2 separate regions of the Homo sapiens genome follow, and region 2 is linked to region 1. Evidence: fine-mapped expression QTL. Tissue or cell type: cerebellar hemisphere. Region 1 holds a variant in brackets; the other region holds the start of a gene. All regions are shown on one strand. Distances are between the middles of the regions.

What was found. PIP is the estimated chance that this variant, and not a neighbour inherited with it, causes the effect.
Region 2: it holds the start of NRIP3, and the variant in region 1 is fine-mapped to the expression of NRIP3 in cerebellar hemisphere (GTEx, PIP 0.99).

The regions. Positions count from the first base shown.
Region 1 is chr11:8,964,447-8,972,143 of GRCh38, reverse strand. TMEM9B-AS1 (TMEM9B antisense RNA 1) reads right to left here and starts at 7,469. Exons shown (of 5, transcript NR_073431.1): 1 at 6,996-7,469; 2 at 6,100-6,240; 3 at 5,488-5,603; 4 at 4,103-4,305. It also overlaps a transcript of TMEM9B not described here. RefSeq lists a silencer at 7,509-7,697. The variant G/A (reference allele first, on the strand shown) is at 5,765.
Region 2 is chr11:9,000,237-9,007,933 of GRCh38, reverse strand. It overlaps NRIP3 (nuclear receptor interacting protein 3), which reads left to right and starts at 3,933. Exons shown (of 7, transcript NM_020645.3): 1 at 3,933-4,172. The coding sequence starts at 3,999. NRIP3-DT (NRIP3 divergent transcript) reads right to left here and starts at 3,846. Exons shown (of 3, transcript NR_183663.1): 1 at 3,391-3,846. RefSeq lists an enhancer at 3,837-4,756.

The sequences.
Region 1 (7,697 bases):
AACTTAACTCCAACACTCCTTTCACTACCACCTTTTCATTGTCCCTAATCTCCAAGTTCCTTCTGTTCCTGTCATAATCAACTTAAATCCCAGGATCACTCATTATAATCATGCAACTTGCATGTACTTTTAACTTAGTCTACCCCTTTTTGTCATTTTCAGTTTGCAAAATCACAACTTTAAAGCCAGCTCTTTGCCTTTGTACCTACTTCTGTGCAGCAACTATGCTGTTTAGTCTTACTTTAAATTCATGTCCATAACCTTCAGGCCTTAATGCTGCCTGATAATCATATTTCCCTACTCTATATACCTTCCCATCCTCCTAGATCAGGAGTCAGCCAACTTTTTCTGTAAAGGGCCAGATAAATATTTTTGGCATAGCAGGTCATAGTCTCTTTTGCAATTATTCAGCTTTGTCACTGTAGCATGAAAGTAGCCAGAGGCAATATGTAAATAAATGAAATTTGAATTGCATTTATTTGTTACATGCTATGATGTAATATCATCTTAAATTTTTTTCCCAACCGTTTAAAAGTAAAAAAGTATCCTTAGCTTGTGGATTGCACCAAAATAGGATTTGACCAAAGGCTATAGTTTGCTGTGCTGTGTCCTAAATTATTTCACACCTTCTCTTTTCTTCCAACACTTCCTCCCCATTTTCACTCTCAGATGATGACCTTGTTTTCTACTTCATTCATCCACCACATCCACCCTCTTACCAGCATCTATATGCATATGTTCAGCTTTCCCTTCTGTTGCTGTGTTACCTAGCGCAAGATCTAAATACTATATAACCCACTGTTTATCTCCCTCACTAGAATCTAGTCCCAGGAGACAGTTTTGTCTGATGTATACCCAGAACCTGGAACAGTGTTTGGCACATAGTAAGTCCTCAACCAATACCTGAATGAATGAGTACTGTCTATCAGACTAGCATGCAGGCAAAAGTTTAGAGAATTTTACTCCAGGAGAACTTATCTCCGTTTTTTTTTTTTTTTTTTTGAGACGGAGTCTTGCTCTGTCGCCCAGGCTGGAGTGCAGTGGCAATCTCCGCCTCCCGAGTTCAAATGATTCTCCTGCCTCAGCCTCCCGAGTAGCTGGGATTACAGGCGCGTGCCACCATGCCTGACTTATTTTTTGTATTCTTAGAAGAGATGAGGTTTCACCATGTTAGCCAGGATGGTCTCAATCTCCCGACCTCATGATCTGCCCGCCTCAGCCTCCCAAAGTGCTGGGATTACAGGCATGAGCCACCGCACTGGGCCGGAACTTAACCTCTCTAAGAGAAAAGACCTACCTGTCCTGACAGTTGGAGATCTCTTTGATTATCCTAAGTTGTACTTTTTCAAATTTCTTTGAAGAAACACCCACAATAAAAAAAAAAAACTCCCATTTTATGGGATCAAACCAGTACATAATATGTATATATGATATGTGTAAGAAACCAAAGTTTCATAAAATAATTCTCTTTCTATGTAGATGTATTCTGAGGTGGTGTTTTCTATTCTGTTCTGTCATTTGGGGGAAATAAAACTGATTATATTGATTTCACAAACTACTAATGGGTTTGCGACCAGAAGTTTGAAAAATACTGCAGTATGTCCTACCAATTACAAGTCCTAAGTATGTACACAGAACTTTTTTTTTTTTTGAGACAGAGTTTTGGTCTGTTGCCTAGGCTGGAGAGCTCACTGCAACCTCTGCCTCCCGGGTTCAAGAGATTCTCAAGCCTCAGCCTCCCAAGTAGCAAGGATTACAGGCGTGCGCCACCAGCCCGGCTAATTTTTGTATTTTTAGTAGAGATGGGGTTTCACCATGTTGGCAAGGCTGGTCTTGAACTCCTGACCTCAAGTGATCTGCCTGCCTTGGCCTTCCAAAGTGCTGGGGTTACAGGTGTGAGCCACCTCACTGGCCAGTGTACACAGAACTTTCTATTGGCTTTCTAGTGCCCCACTCTTACATATGAATGGATGGCCAAGGATCTCTAGACGTTTAAGAAAAGCTTCCAACACAAAACAGAAACAAGCCTTAAAAATTCAACACAGACAATTCAAGAAACAAAAGAAAACATTAGCAATATTCTTAGAGTAATAAGATACTGCATCCACCAAATGGAACAGACTGCTATTTAAAAAGGGGAAGGGGGTGGACAAGAAAGTGCTTCCCTGGAGGACGTTATGCTGAATGGAATAAGCCAGGCACAGACAGACAAAGTCACATGATTCCTAATGTAGAATCTAAAACAAACTCACAGAATCAGAGTAGAATGATGGTTATCAGAGAGTAGGGGGAAGGGGTGGTAGGGGAAACAAGGAGATGTTGGTTAGAGTACGAAGTTTCAGTTAGATAAAGGGAATACATTTTTTGAGATAAAGAGTATAGCATGGTTAATAATAATGTACTGTATATTTCAAAATTGCTGAAGGTAAATGTCAAGTATTCTCACCACAAAGAAGTATTTGTAGTGATGGATATGTTAATTAGCTTGATTTAATCTTTCCACATTGTATACATATAACATCACTTTGTACCCCATAAATATATCCAATTTGTACTTGTCAATTTACAATAAACCTTTAAATTACAAAAATAAAAAATATTTTTAATTAAAAGAGAGGTTGACAAGAAAGTATTCTGGCAAATTTAAAACATAACAGAAATTTTAAAATTCAAAAGAAAAGCTGGAAGGTGGAAATCTTTCAGAAAAACAAAAAGAAGTGGAAAACAGGGTAGAAAGGATAAAATTATTTCAGGACAAAAGCTGTGCAGTAGGCTTAGAGAAAAACTAGTCCACAGTGAAGGAGGATGATGGGCTCCTAGAGAGTTGTCTCCAATTTAAAAAATAAACTGATTGATAGACTACTTGATGTGTTTCAATGTTTTGAAAGGACAGTTTGGAATAAATTGATTATAGACACTTGAATGCTAGGTACTTAAGAAAGTTGCATGGAGAAAGAGGCAATAGTTAACTTCAATCAAAATAAAGGAAATATAATCATATTATGCTAACTGGATCAATTACATACCTTTATAATAGTATAATGAATAGTACTCTACCTATATAGGGTGATATAGATAAACTGAAGGATGGAAGATGGAGAAATACATGTGTGTATTACCAGTCTTCAGAGTATAAACACATATCTTATTTCCTATAGAAAAAGTAAAATAATGGCCCAAACTGAAAAATTAAGAATTAGTAGTATAAGCATGCTATTTAGAAATACGGAGATAAATACCAGAAGAGGTAGCTGGGTGAATAGAGATTATATCTAGGGAGTAGAAACTGAGAGTGTGGAGGGCTGGGACAGGGTCTGCTGTTTTTCATTATAAACCTAGTGATACTATTTGATTTTTAATGTAATGATAAAAATAAAACAATATGATTAATGTGGTATTTCATTTATTTGAAAATCTTAGGAGGGACTGTATTCATTAAGTTTTTTTGTTTTGTTTGTTTGTTTGTTTTGAGACGGAGTTTCGCTATTGTTGCCCAGGCTGGAGTGCAATGGTGCAATCTCAGCTCACTGCAACCTCCGCCTCCTGGGTTCAAGGATTCTTATGCCTCAGCCTCCTGAGTAGCTGGGATTACAGGCGCCTGCCACCACGCCTGGCTAACTTTTTCTATTTTTAGTAGAGATGGGGTTTCACCATGTTGGTCAGGCTGTTCTTGAACTCCTGACCTCAAGTGATCTGACTGCCTCAGCCTCCCAAAGTGCTGGGATTATAGGCATGAGCCACCATGCGCCCAGGCTGGAGTGCAGTGGCATGATCTCGACTCACTACAACCTCCGCCTCCTGAGTTCAAGCGATTCTGGTGCCTCAGCTTCCGGAGTAGCTGGGATTACAGGTGCCTGCCACCACGCCCTGCTAATTTTTGTATTTTTAGTAGAGATGGGGTTTCACCATGTTGGCCAGGCTGTTCTTGAACTCCTGACCTCAAGTGATCTACCTGCCTTGGCCTCCCAAAGTGCTGGGATTACAGGCGTGAGCCACTGCACCTGACCTGTTTTCATTAAATATTCTAAGGTACTGGGAAATCAACAATATTGATTTAGCACCTCTAAAAGGAACTAAAAATTCTCCCCACTTTGGTACTCACCTGCACTGTGGTGTTTTATTTCAGGGAACCCAGTAACATCAGCAGTGGCACCAGCAGCTCTAGAAACATATTCTGTCCCCATAAATTGTTGTTATCATGGTGAACACCAGCAAGTGATGCACTTAGGTGGCTTTACAGGCAGCAGTAGGCTTTACAGTGGGCTGAAAAATCCCACTAAACAGGGCTGAGTAGGAGGGAGCATCCTAGTGGGTGCACACAATAAAGAAGAGGGCTCATAAGACGTTTCCAGAGTATGCTCAGAAATAACTGGAAGGATGTGTGTGTCCCCAGCCATAACCACTGGAGCCACAATACAAGGAAATCACCAATGTTGTGCATAACTCCATTTGTTCTCCTGGACTGGTGTTGCCTAGGCAAGTGCTGGGTAGATCAGAATGGATGGGGTGGAAGAATTAAGGGGCATCCAGAGAGCTATTTGATCACTGGAGGGGAAAGGGCATGGGGGGATGCAGACAGGTGGCAAAACCTGGGTCCAAGATATATTTGTCCCAGATATATAAATTGTCACTTTTCTCCCTCCCCTTCTGACTTGCACACTTACAAAGAAGGTTCCTCTTCCTTTTCTAACCATCCCCCACCAGGGAATTTTTCAGGCCTTACAAAGAAGGGAGAGGACCCAGGCCAGTTGGGAGGGTACACGTGGACCTACATCACTCTTTTTGAGGAAGTGAGTAGGGAAACCTAGTTATAAGGAAGCAAGGAAAATAGAGGGAGAGTGAGTACTAAGGCCAGCGCCGTCTATAAACAGAACAATTCCCGTGTGACCTGAAGGTCTAGGAAGACCCGAGGTGAGAAATCTTCACTCCCCTGCCTACTATGGTGCGCCGGATCCCGCCATTTGCACATCTTTGGGCATCTCAGCATCCCCTCTCATGGTCAGAAAGAAATCAAATGAGGATTCAAGTAGGTGCCTGATACTTTTCTTTTAGACTAACCAGAGGAGCCTCTCCCATTCCCCTTTTCCCTGGTCCCCACAAACATCATATTGTTTTAATCTGTCTCCAGGTATAACAATAATAAGACAAAGTCCTTACCCTCAGAGAGCTCACAATATTTTGGTGGAGGTTTGGGTATAAAGGCAAATGTGAAAACATAATTTTACTATAATGGGGTAAAGTTAAGAAAGAGATCTATGCAAACATAGAAAGGAGTGCACTTAAGTCAGTGAAGGTTTTCTGGCTTAGAAGAACCCTGACCTAAAGGAAAAGTAAGAGTTACCTAGATAAGAGCAGGGCAGAACAAGAGAAACTGATCCCTCCACTTCTATTGAGTCACCTGAAATTATATTCATTTTTTGGCAGACATATACCTCCCCCAAACATTCGGCTCTAGTTGTGCCAGTTCTTCCTTGTCAGCCCTCTTACCTTGGCCTGAGGCTTCATTGTCTCCAGTCAGGCGACTATCTCATAGTCACACTCCACTCACGGCAGCCACATTCTGTATTCCAGAACAGCACTTCCTGACAGCACTATAACATTTTCTAGCAGCCACATTTAAGAGGTCAAAAAACAAGTGAAATATTTTACTAATATATTTTATTTAACCCAACATATCTAAAATATTTAAACCATATTTTTAAATTACTGAAATATTTTACATTTTAAAAATATTGTCTTTGAAATTAAGTGTATATTTTATACA[G/A]CACATTTCAATTCAGTCTAGCCACATTTCAAATGCTCAATTGCCACATGTAGCTAGATAGTGGTTATACTATGGAGCTCTAAAATTCCGCCCAGACTGAGTGTGCTTGGTGTTTCTCCATTAAACAGATGAGGCCCATCAGTCTGAGGCACAACTATGTATTTTCTCTAAGTCTCTGTACCCCCAAGGCCTTGAAAACAATTCGGAAGGAAGAGAAGGCCTATGAGGTTTCAGCTACAGCAGGCACTCCCTTTAGATGCCAAGCCTAGAAAACCCTAAACTGATGCCTAACTTGCAGCTGAATCACCTTTCAGCAATCAGATTCAGTGCCTCACCAACACATTTGATCCAGGGAGTCTCCAGTTTGTCCTTTGTCCAGTAGAAGACCCACTACAAAGCCTTGATAATTCATCAAAGTGACAGCACCTTCACTGGGCAGTCTGGTGAGAGGACATCTAGCCCTGCCACCCTGGTTCCTGTTGGGAACAGTATCAGATACGTTGTGTTAGATTCACATGAATCTAAGAATCACATGGGCGAAAAATATTGAGAGCATTCTGTTAAAACATTTCCACAAATTGGGAAAAGACCATCTTTAAAAATCTGTTGGGGCCGGGCGCGGTGGCTCACGCCTATAATCCCAGCAATTTGGGAGGCCGAGGCGGGCGGATCACAAGGTCAGGAGATCGAGACCATCCTGGCTAACACAGTGAGACCCTGTCTGTACTAAAAATACAAAAAAAAAAAAAGAAAAAGAAAAAGAAAAAAAAAATTAGCCGGGCGGCGTGGTGGCGGGCGCCTGTAGTCCCACCTACTAGGGAGGCTGAGGCAGGAGAATGGCGTCAACCCGGGAGGCGGAGGTTGCAGTGAGCCGAGATCGCGCCACTGCACTCCAGCCCGGGGGACAGAACGAGACTCCGTCTCAAAAAAAACAAAAAAATCTGTTTACAGAGGTAAAAACACGGGTATTACATGGAGCATAATTTGAAATCCATTCCCTCATATTCAGCCAAGAACTACAGGCCCAGAGAAGGGAAGTGATTTGCCAAAGGTCATTCAACAAATCCCTAGGGGCTGTGATGATCCGTGTCCTTGCCATTACCTCCCTTGTCTCCACTAACAAAAATATTTCAATGGGAGAATGTGCCGATCTAAGGCACTCCTAAAGTACTTGCTGAGAATGACAGCCCTGGGGAGACAGGTCGGCAGCCCTGAACAGGCACTGCCTTACCCGGGCGTAGTGCCCCAATTCGCCACCTCTTGGAGTCCTAGGCGGAGGATACTACTGGGGCAGTTGTTTCGCCAATTCCACATCTCCCGGAGCCTGGCCTGGCCCAGCCCAGCCCCGTCGCTGTGACCCACTTCCTAGCTGCAGGCTGGACCAAGGGGAGGCACATGGGGAGCTCCACAGGGAGGCCACGCCCACGAGGGCAGCTCACAGAATTAGAAAGCCGACGGGGTGCTGTGGTCAGGAGGCGCGTGGGCGGCAGGTTAGTACTTAAGGTGCAGAGACCACCCCCAACCCTTTGACTGGCGGTGGGCATCCCGGAAAGGCATGGCTCGGCCAATTCCAGCCCCGTTTCCACGCTCAGCACCCGCCCTGCCTGTGCGCGAACGGCTCCGGCCCGCACGGGTCGCCAGAGGCGACTGTGTGACACTCGGAGTTTGCTGGGGTCTCCGTGGGCGGGAGGACTTTCCAGCGCAATGGCGACTCCCTAAGCCCCGCAGCTTCTGCGCCCGGGAAAGATATCCAAGAGATGCAAAGCTCTACTGGGCCCAGGCTGCCACCCCAGAGGCCCCCTTCCGTCCCGGGGCCGGGGCTAGGCCAAGGCGGGCACCAGGACTGCCCAGCCTCCCGGCCCTTCGCACTGGTAACCGGTTCCGGGGCGGATGCTTTTTGCATCTGACCCGGCGCGCCCGGTGACGCCTTCGC
Region 2 (7,697 bases), 36 kb before region 1:
TCTTCTCCTCTACTTTTTAGGCCTCCAAGCCTCAGCACTCATCCTGTTTCTCATTCTTAAAGGCCTCTCTGTTAGCTGAAGACCCAAAAGAGGGTTGCTAGGAGAATAGGTTGTAAGCCTAGAGTCACAAATAGCCATCAGACAGGAAGGGTCTGCCTACAGGGGCATCAGCTCAGAGGAAAGCAGAGCTGAAACACAGTGATAATGTCATTTGAGTCTTTGGATCCAGCCATGCCTGAAGCCCTGCACTTTTAAATTAAGGGGACCAAAAATTTGCATTTTCACATAAGAAATTTTCAACTGGGTATCTGTCACTTATAAGAAGAATAACGTGAATAGCATTCTAACACTGAAACAGTACTGGATTTTCTAGTATGATTTTCAAGTACAGGTCTTCTATAACAGCCAAGGGAGGATGCAGAGAACTTTAGGATAGAGCCATTGCACATGGAAAGTCCAGAATCTGGAGACACTGAGGAGAGGAAGAGAGCTGGCCAGCCCCTGCCTCAGCAGGCCTCTGCTCTAGGGATAGGGTAAGATACTCAAGTCTGGCTTCATGTCTGAAGCTCTGTAGGGAAGCCTGGAGAAAGGATAGGCCAGCCCCAATTCGAGGGTTCTGCAACCTACAGTTTTTCCTGAAGTTGTTCCAGGTAATGATGGTTGCTACCTTCTGCTGAGCCTATGCTACATGACCAATGTATTACACTGTCTATCGTTTTATTTCTCACAGCAGCCCTGAGAAGTAGAGATATTGGCACAATTTTCTAGATGAAGAACTGAAAGCTCACAATGGTGCAGTAACTAACTAGTCACATAGCTAGTAAGCAGCAGAGCAGGGATTCAAATCTAGTGTATTAGACTCCAAAACCTGTGTTTTTAACAACCATATTGTATGTTACTTCCTCCAAGATGGGTCAATGAGGCAGGGGACGTTGATTGGCTATATGGAGAATTAATAATAATCTTTTCTGTTGGTACAGCCCTAGAGAGTTTACAAAGCACAATTGTATATGCAGTCTCACTACATCCATTTTACAGATATGGAAACTGAGGCTCAGAGGTAGGAAGTGATTTACTCAAAGTCATTTGGGCAAACAGGATAAACCACCCAGAGATAACTCTCCTTAAATTAAGCAGGCAGTCTGTAGTCTGCGAATACTCATAATGTGTGGGGGGAGGAAGGAGCTGGCCTCACCACACTGAACCTTGAGGGCAGTGATGGTATCAGTCTGTCCAAGGAAGGTCTCAGACAGGTGAGGGGACCAACAGGTATTGCAGCCACAGACCCAACTGCAGAACACAAATCCCACTACACCAAAGGGCTCTGAATTCACAAAAAGATTCCCAGTTCCAGTCGGGCACCATTTATTTTTCAGCAACACTTGATATGGGCAAATTCCAGTTCAACTAGAGAGATTCAGCTTCCTGGTGTTCCCAGGGGGATCTAGCTCTGAAAAGAGCCCCTTTCTTCTGTCAGGACATCCTCAGCAAAAAAGGCTGCAGGTCTGAGCTGAGCAGCCTGGAGAGTGGGGATTCCAACTCCCCCCGAGAGTGTCTACCTGCCTGGCTTCCTCCCTGAGGAAAGTCACTGTCCCAGCCCAAGCCCTAGGGGCCCTCACTGTTGGACCTGCCCTGATGCTTTGCCAAACTCAGAGGCACCTCTCCTAGACGGACAAGGCAAAGCTGACTTTCACTGTTCCCTGGGTGATCTGCACCTGGAGGAGTGATCAGGCAGGGATCCAGGTGATGGGACAGAAGGGGCCAGGGCAGCCACTGTTGTTCACTGCTGGAAGTGTGCCAGGGGACTGGAAGGTGAACAGCAATCCCACCTGTCTCCTAGAGACTCTGTCCTCCGTGTGTAGGGGAAAGTAGGGGATGGGCACACAGGGAGGAATCCAGCCCTGGGGCTTCCTTGAAGCCAAGTGAGCAGCCTTCTGTATTTGTTTTCCCACAAACAGTCTTTGAAACTGGGGCAAGTGTTGAAGGCAGAACAGAGTAAAAGAAGCAGCTTCATGAGGCCAAACCCAGTCTCTCCAGGTCTAGGTAGTCCAGCACAGGTTCTGGGAGTAAATGCCAGCTTTACCACTTGATTTCTTTGGTACGACCTTAACTTTTTGCCATCCTTTCACTAGTATTTGAGAACCCTCTGCATATTAGGGCATCAATGCTAAGCAAAAAATGGGTTCAGTCACCTTCCTGGAGGTTCCAATCAGTGGAGGAGACAAATATTAATCCAACAACCAGTACCCCCCTACCCCTACCCCCACAGAAAGTGTCAAATGCCCAAGAGATAGATAGTATATAATTAGAGAGACTTCACTCTCTCTGGAAGGTCAGAGAAGGCTTTCCTAAAGAAATGATAATGGAGCTGAGGTCTGGAAGAAGCATAGGAGTTTCCTGAAGAGGGTAGGAGGGGGCACTGCACACAGAGGGAACAGGACAGTCAAAGGCAGGCCATTTGGCAACAGGTGACTGGAAGGAACTGGAAGAAGGCCCATGAGGCTGAAGTACAGAGTGAATATGCAGGGTCTAGGCAGACCATGCAAGAATGTGGGTTTCTCCTAAGAGCAATAGGAAGCCTTTTGAGGTGCTCTTAGCAGGGAAGTGAGATGATCACACTTATCGTTTGAGAAGATTACTCTGGCAGCACAGTGAACAACGTATTGGAATGGAACCAAGGAGCATTCAGGAGGCCAGACAGAAGGTATCAGGTATTTGCCTGTAAAATGGGGGTGATGAGAATACTATCTTACAAGCTGTTGCCAGGATCCAATGAGATACTGCATTTTAAGTGTCTAGTCTAGTACCTGGCACATAGTAAAGGCTCAGTAAGCGTCGATATTGTTACTTTTATCATTGGTTCTTTGCAGAGTGCACATATTTCTTATCCAGGTCTGCTCCTGCGTGATGGGGTGGAGGGAGTAGTTGTGGTTTCCAGAGTGAAAACGTGATTTGTGTCAAATCACAATGTCGAGACCAGAATCCAGGATGCCTGAAGGCCCGATTAGAATGGCTTAAAAGTATGGATTATTCAGGAAGAAAAACGGGTTCCAATCGCTCCTACTAAGGACGCTGGAGGGATGGTGAACGATCCTTTAGATGGTAAGCCCTAGCACTTATTGAGAAAAACAGGTGCTTCTTTGGTCGGAGAGCAGGTGTAGGGCTCGCAGCCGCGTGCGCTCCCGCGGAGGCGGGGGACCCTCGCCACTCCCCCGCCCCACGCCCACCCGCGGGCTTCCGACTGCACCTGCTCCCCCGGCTCGGAAACGCGGGCCGGGTGCCGGGCTGCAGGCAGAGGGTGCCCGGGGGAGGAGGTCCCGAAAGCCTCCTCCACACGCCTGCACCGGCTGCCCCCTCCCCAGTCACGTGGCCCGGTGGGTGGGGACCGACCTGAAGTTGGAGAAATCCGGAGCGCTCCCAACCTCGGAGGGAGTCGCCAGTCCTCCGGGCCCGGGCGGTGGACCCTGGAGCCCCGGCTGGCGGCGTGGAGGTGCGTTTCTGAGAAGCCGAGCAGCGGCGCGGGCGGCGGGACTCGAGGCATGGCCCGGCTGTCGGTGATCCCCGGGTCGGCCACGGCGTGGACAGGTGAGCAGGTACCCGCGGCCAGCGGCAGAGATGGCCGGGGCTGCCAGGGCATCGGGCCCCAGAGCCCACGCCAGTCCAGGGGATGCGGGGCCCCCACGCAGGAGGGGGCGGTTGGGTGAAAAGGCCGCGGTGGATTCTCGGACTGCCGGGTCAGTCCCCACCAGCGCCGCCGCCTCCTCGCCGGCTTTGCCACCGGGTGAGCAGGGGACGCGGGACGCGGGACGCGGGACGCGAGGGAGCCGCGCGGGGCGTGGACTCTGTGCCGGCCCCGCCCCCCGCGCGCGCACTGGCTGCTCCCCGCGACGTCACGCTCGGCTATAAAAGGCGCGGCTCGGGGCCCTTGCGGCGCTGGAGGAGCTCGAGGCTGAGGCTGCCGGGGGGCTGTGGGCTACCGGGCCGCCGGCGCCTCAGCGATGTTTTACTCAGGGCTCCTCACTGAGGGCGGCCGCAAGGAGACCGACATGCGGGAGGCGGCGTCACTGCGACAGCAGCGCCGGATGAAGCAGGCGGTGCAGTTCATCCACAAGGACTCCGCCGACCTGCTGCCCCTGGACGGCCTCAAGAAGCTGGGCTCGTCCAAGGACATGGTGAGCCCCCGCCGCCGTTCTCGCCCCGGCCCCGGCGGCTTCGCGCCCGCCGTTTTCCGAGGCCCGGCCGTTGCGGCTTTCACTGAGTCACGGCCCGGCCCGCCGCTGCCCTTGGCTCGCGGTCGCTGCGTCGCGGATTCCTCCCCTTCCAGTACCCCTGCTGCGGTTTCGGTGGGGATTCCGTCGTAGCTTTTCTAGCTTGCGCTCCCCTCGGCTGTGCCTCCTCCCTGGATGTCTCTTCTCCAGTAGAAAGAAGAGGTCCTGCCCTGCCCTCTTGCCCTCGGGTCTTCTTTCTTTTTCCTTATTCTTAATACCGAATTTTGTTCACGGGGCTTGTGCCTCCTATGCTGTGTGGCTGTTCCTATGACCCAGACAGAGGTGATTCCTAATGGCTTTCCGTGAGGGGGAAAGAAGTGGAAAGAGGGTTTTTTGACAGTTGCCAGATCCAGAGGACTTCTGTTGAATCCATTGTCCCCCTATGCAAAACCCACTTCTCTAGTTTTGGTCCTAACTTTGACCTTCCATCCTGAGTGGGGAGAGAGAAAAGGGGCCAAATGTGAAGGTTTCCTGAACCCCCAACATCTCTTCATCATTCTCCTCTTCCAGCCCCGCCCCCAAGGAGTGGGTAGAGGGAGGAAGCCAGGCTGCTGCATCTCACCGACCAGCTAATGTGTGCATCTGGAGCTGGGGTGGGTGCAGTCTTTTTTTCTAGCACAGTTGTTCCTGGCATTAAGTAGAAGCACCTCAGGACAGGGGGCCTGGGGTCAAAGATGGTACTGTCCTCTTTCTATAGAATGGGATGGATGGCTAAGGGTTACCAATATAAAGAACTGTATTTGTCATCCCTCAGCCACTGTAGTGGTCCTGGGCCAAGTTTATGTTTAACTTTGTAGTTTTATCTGGAGTTTTCTTGTAGTTTGATTGTTTTCTTGAATTTCACAATCGCTTTATTCATTTGGGTGGTAATATGTGAAACACTAATTAAATGTCTTTTAACAAATGAAATAGGTGCTCTGCATAATTTTTCTAGTATTTTTTATTTTAAGCTTTTGAAATATTTAATTTTGGATGTGGTTGTCGGCCCTAGTTCACTGAAATTGCCATTTCTGGCCCCAGGAGGGCAGAGCTTCTGCATCCATTTCCTTTTTTTTTTTTTTTTTTTTTTAATTTAACAGCTCTAATGATACACAGGTACATTATATTATACACAGTATAATATAATATACAAAAATTTTTCTCCTCCCTGCCATTAGTTACTTCTGTGCAGAGTTTGTCTACTTCAGTTATCTTGCTCTGTTTTTTTTACAAGTTGTGTTTTTTTGTTTTGTTTTGCTTTTTGCACAACCCACAGGATAGTTTATCTGATTTATGCTAACCCAGAGTGATAAGTGATTGAAATGTGCTCCTGCAAAAGAGATAACTCTCTTTTCCCTTCTTTCACTTTAAAGCAATCTCGATTCATTTAACAAATCAGGTTCGAGAAGTATTCTTTCCTTCAGGCCAAATAATCCTATCCTAGTTCCTAGAATGCTCAGCAATCAATAAAGAAGGAAGTATTATATTAAGAGAAGAATTAAAATACAGAGTTTTTAAATGCTGGATTTGGTTGTCCCTCGTTGTCGAGGAGTTTCCTAGCCCTGAGAGCTACCTGAACTTCCTTCTGCCTAGGATTTCTTATACTACTTCATGCTGTGTAAGAATTCCATCCGCTTTTCTGACTCTAGTCTGTCTCAGTTGAGTCACAAAGGGCTGATAGCATACAGCACAGGCAGCAGGCTGCAAAGAGGAAGGAGCCTCAAGAAGCAGGATATTGCCTTGAGTATGACACATACACATGACAGTTGACTGTAAGGCTCTGAATCATGGTTCACGCTTTCTGTGCCCCACCGTCATGGAGTTGATTTCCCTCTCTCACTGTTTTCACACCTATAATGTACAAGTGATTGCACAGAACAGCCAGGTTACAGAAACCAAGGCAGACCGAGGTAGGGCTAGGAGAGCCGCAAGCGCTGGGGTGAGGCAGCATGCTTAAACTCTCTTGGAACTGTTGTTGCAGCCTTAGTACAATCTTAGAAGTGACCTTAGAAGTACATTATTATTCTTTTACTTTATAAATACATGTGGGATAGACCAGTGTTGACTCAATTTTCTCTCACTGCAAGGGAAATTTGGAGGATGTTAAAATTAATTGAATAGTTCTTACTTGGAGTAGTTTATAGTATAATCTCGATAGAAGGAGTCCAAGAAAAGGGAGAGGATAGCATCAGAGGGAGATAAGGAAGAGAGAGGAGAAATTAGTTGTTATTGACTTTTGGGTTTGTGAAGATTGTAGGTTGTTTTTCCTCATACCAGCAACCTATATTTGAATATACCGCTGGGATTTCTGAATTATCTACCTCTTACTATGCTGTTTCTGTAATGTTCACTGCTTGATACCAGCCTGCCAGCTCTTTTAGGACTGGCAGAAGGCAACCATAGGAAATCAAAGGGGGTCATGTTCTCTTGGCCCCAGGAAAGTGCCTTTGCCTATTCCTGTGTATCTGGAGTTGGCTGATACAAAGTCTTCTGTGGAAATTATATTTTTGTCTGCCCCTTTTGCTTTTATCCTTTTATCTTGTATTGTTCATTCTGTATTAGATTAAGAACTAAAACCAGAGATATGAGTGAGTAATATTATATTTGATTTTTTTTTTAAGAGACGGGTTCTCACTCTATTGCCCAGGCTGGAATGCAGCTGCAGTCACATCTTACTGCAGCCTCGACCTCGCAGGCTCAAGAGATCCTCCCACCTCAACCTCCTGAGTAGCTAGGATTACAGGTGCACACCACAACACCAATCTAACTTTTGTATTTTTTGTAGAGATGGGATTTTGCCATATTGCCCAGGCTGGTCTTGAACTCCTGGTCTCAAGCGATCTGCCCACTTTAGCCTCCCAAAGTGCTGGGATTACAAACATGAGCTACCACACCCAGCCCTGATTTTTTTTTTTAACTCAGTGAAGCTGGAGAAAAACATCTCCGTTCTTGGAAATTTGCCTATTGTAATTTATCTTGTTTTAGCTACCAGGTTCATAAAAGTTTTTCTCATTGTGCTAAGGACTTTTTAATTTTTAAAAACAGTCATGTTATGTGGTAATATGCTGTCTTTCCTAAATGATATTATACTTACCTGTAGGCATTAGGCCATATTCTTACTTGTCTGGCAATAGAGTTTTTCTTTCCTACATATGATTGCTTCTGATCATAGCTAAATGCTTTTTCAAAACTGACTAGAATTAGGAATGATGCTGGGGGAAAGATGGTTGAACACAGTAAAGCAAACTTACCATAAAATACCTGAACAGAATCTCTGTCTATTAGAGCAGGTCTGTGTGGTGTGCCCTATAGATTAGCTATCCATATCACCACAAATCATGGGCTGGAGAATTTCAGAGGCTTAGAAGAGAAGCGTGAAATACCAGTATAACACCAAGATCTGGCACAAACTGAAGATTTGCAGAGTCGTGATTGCATCCTCGTAATAGC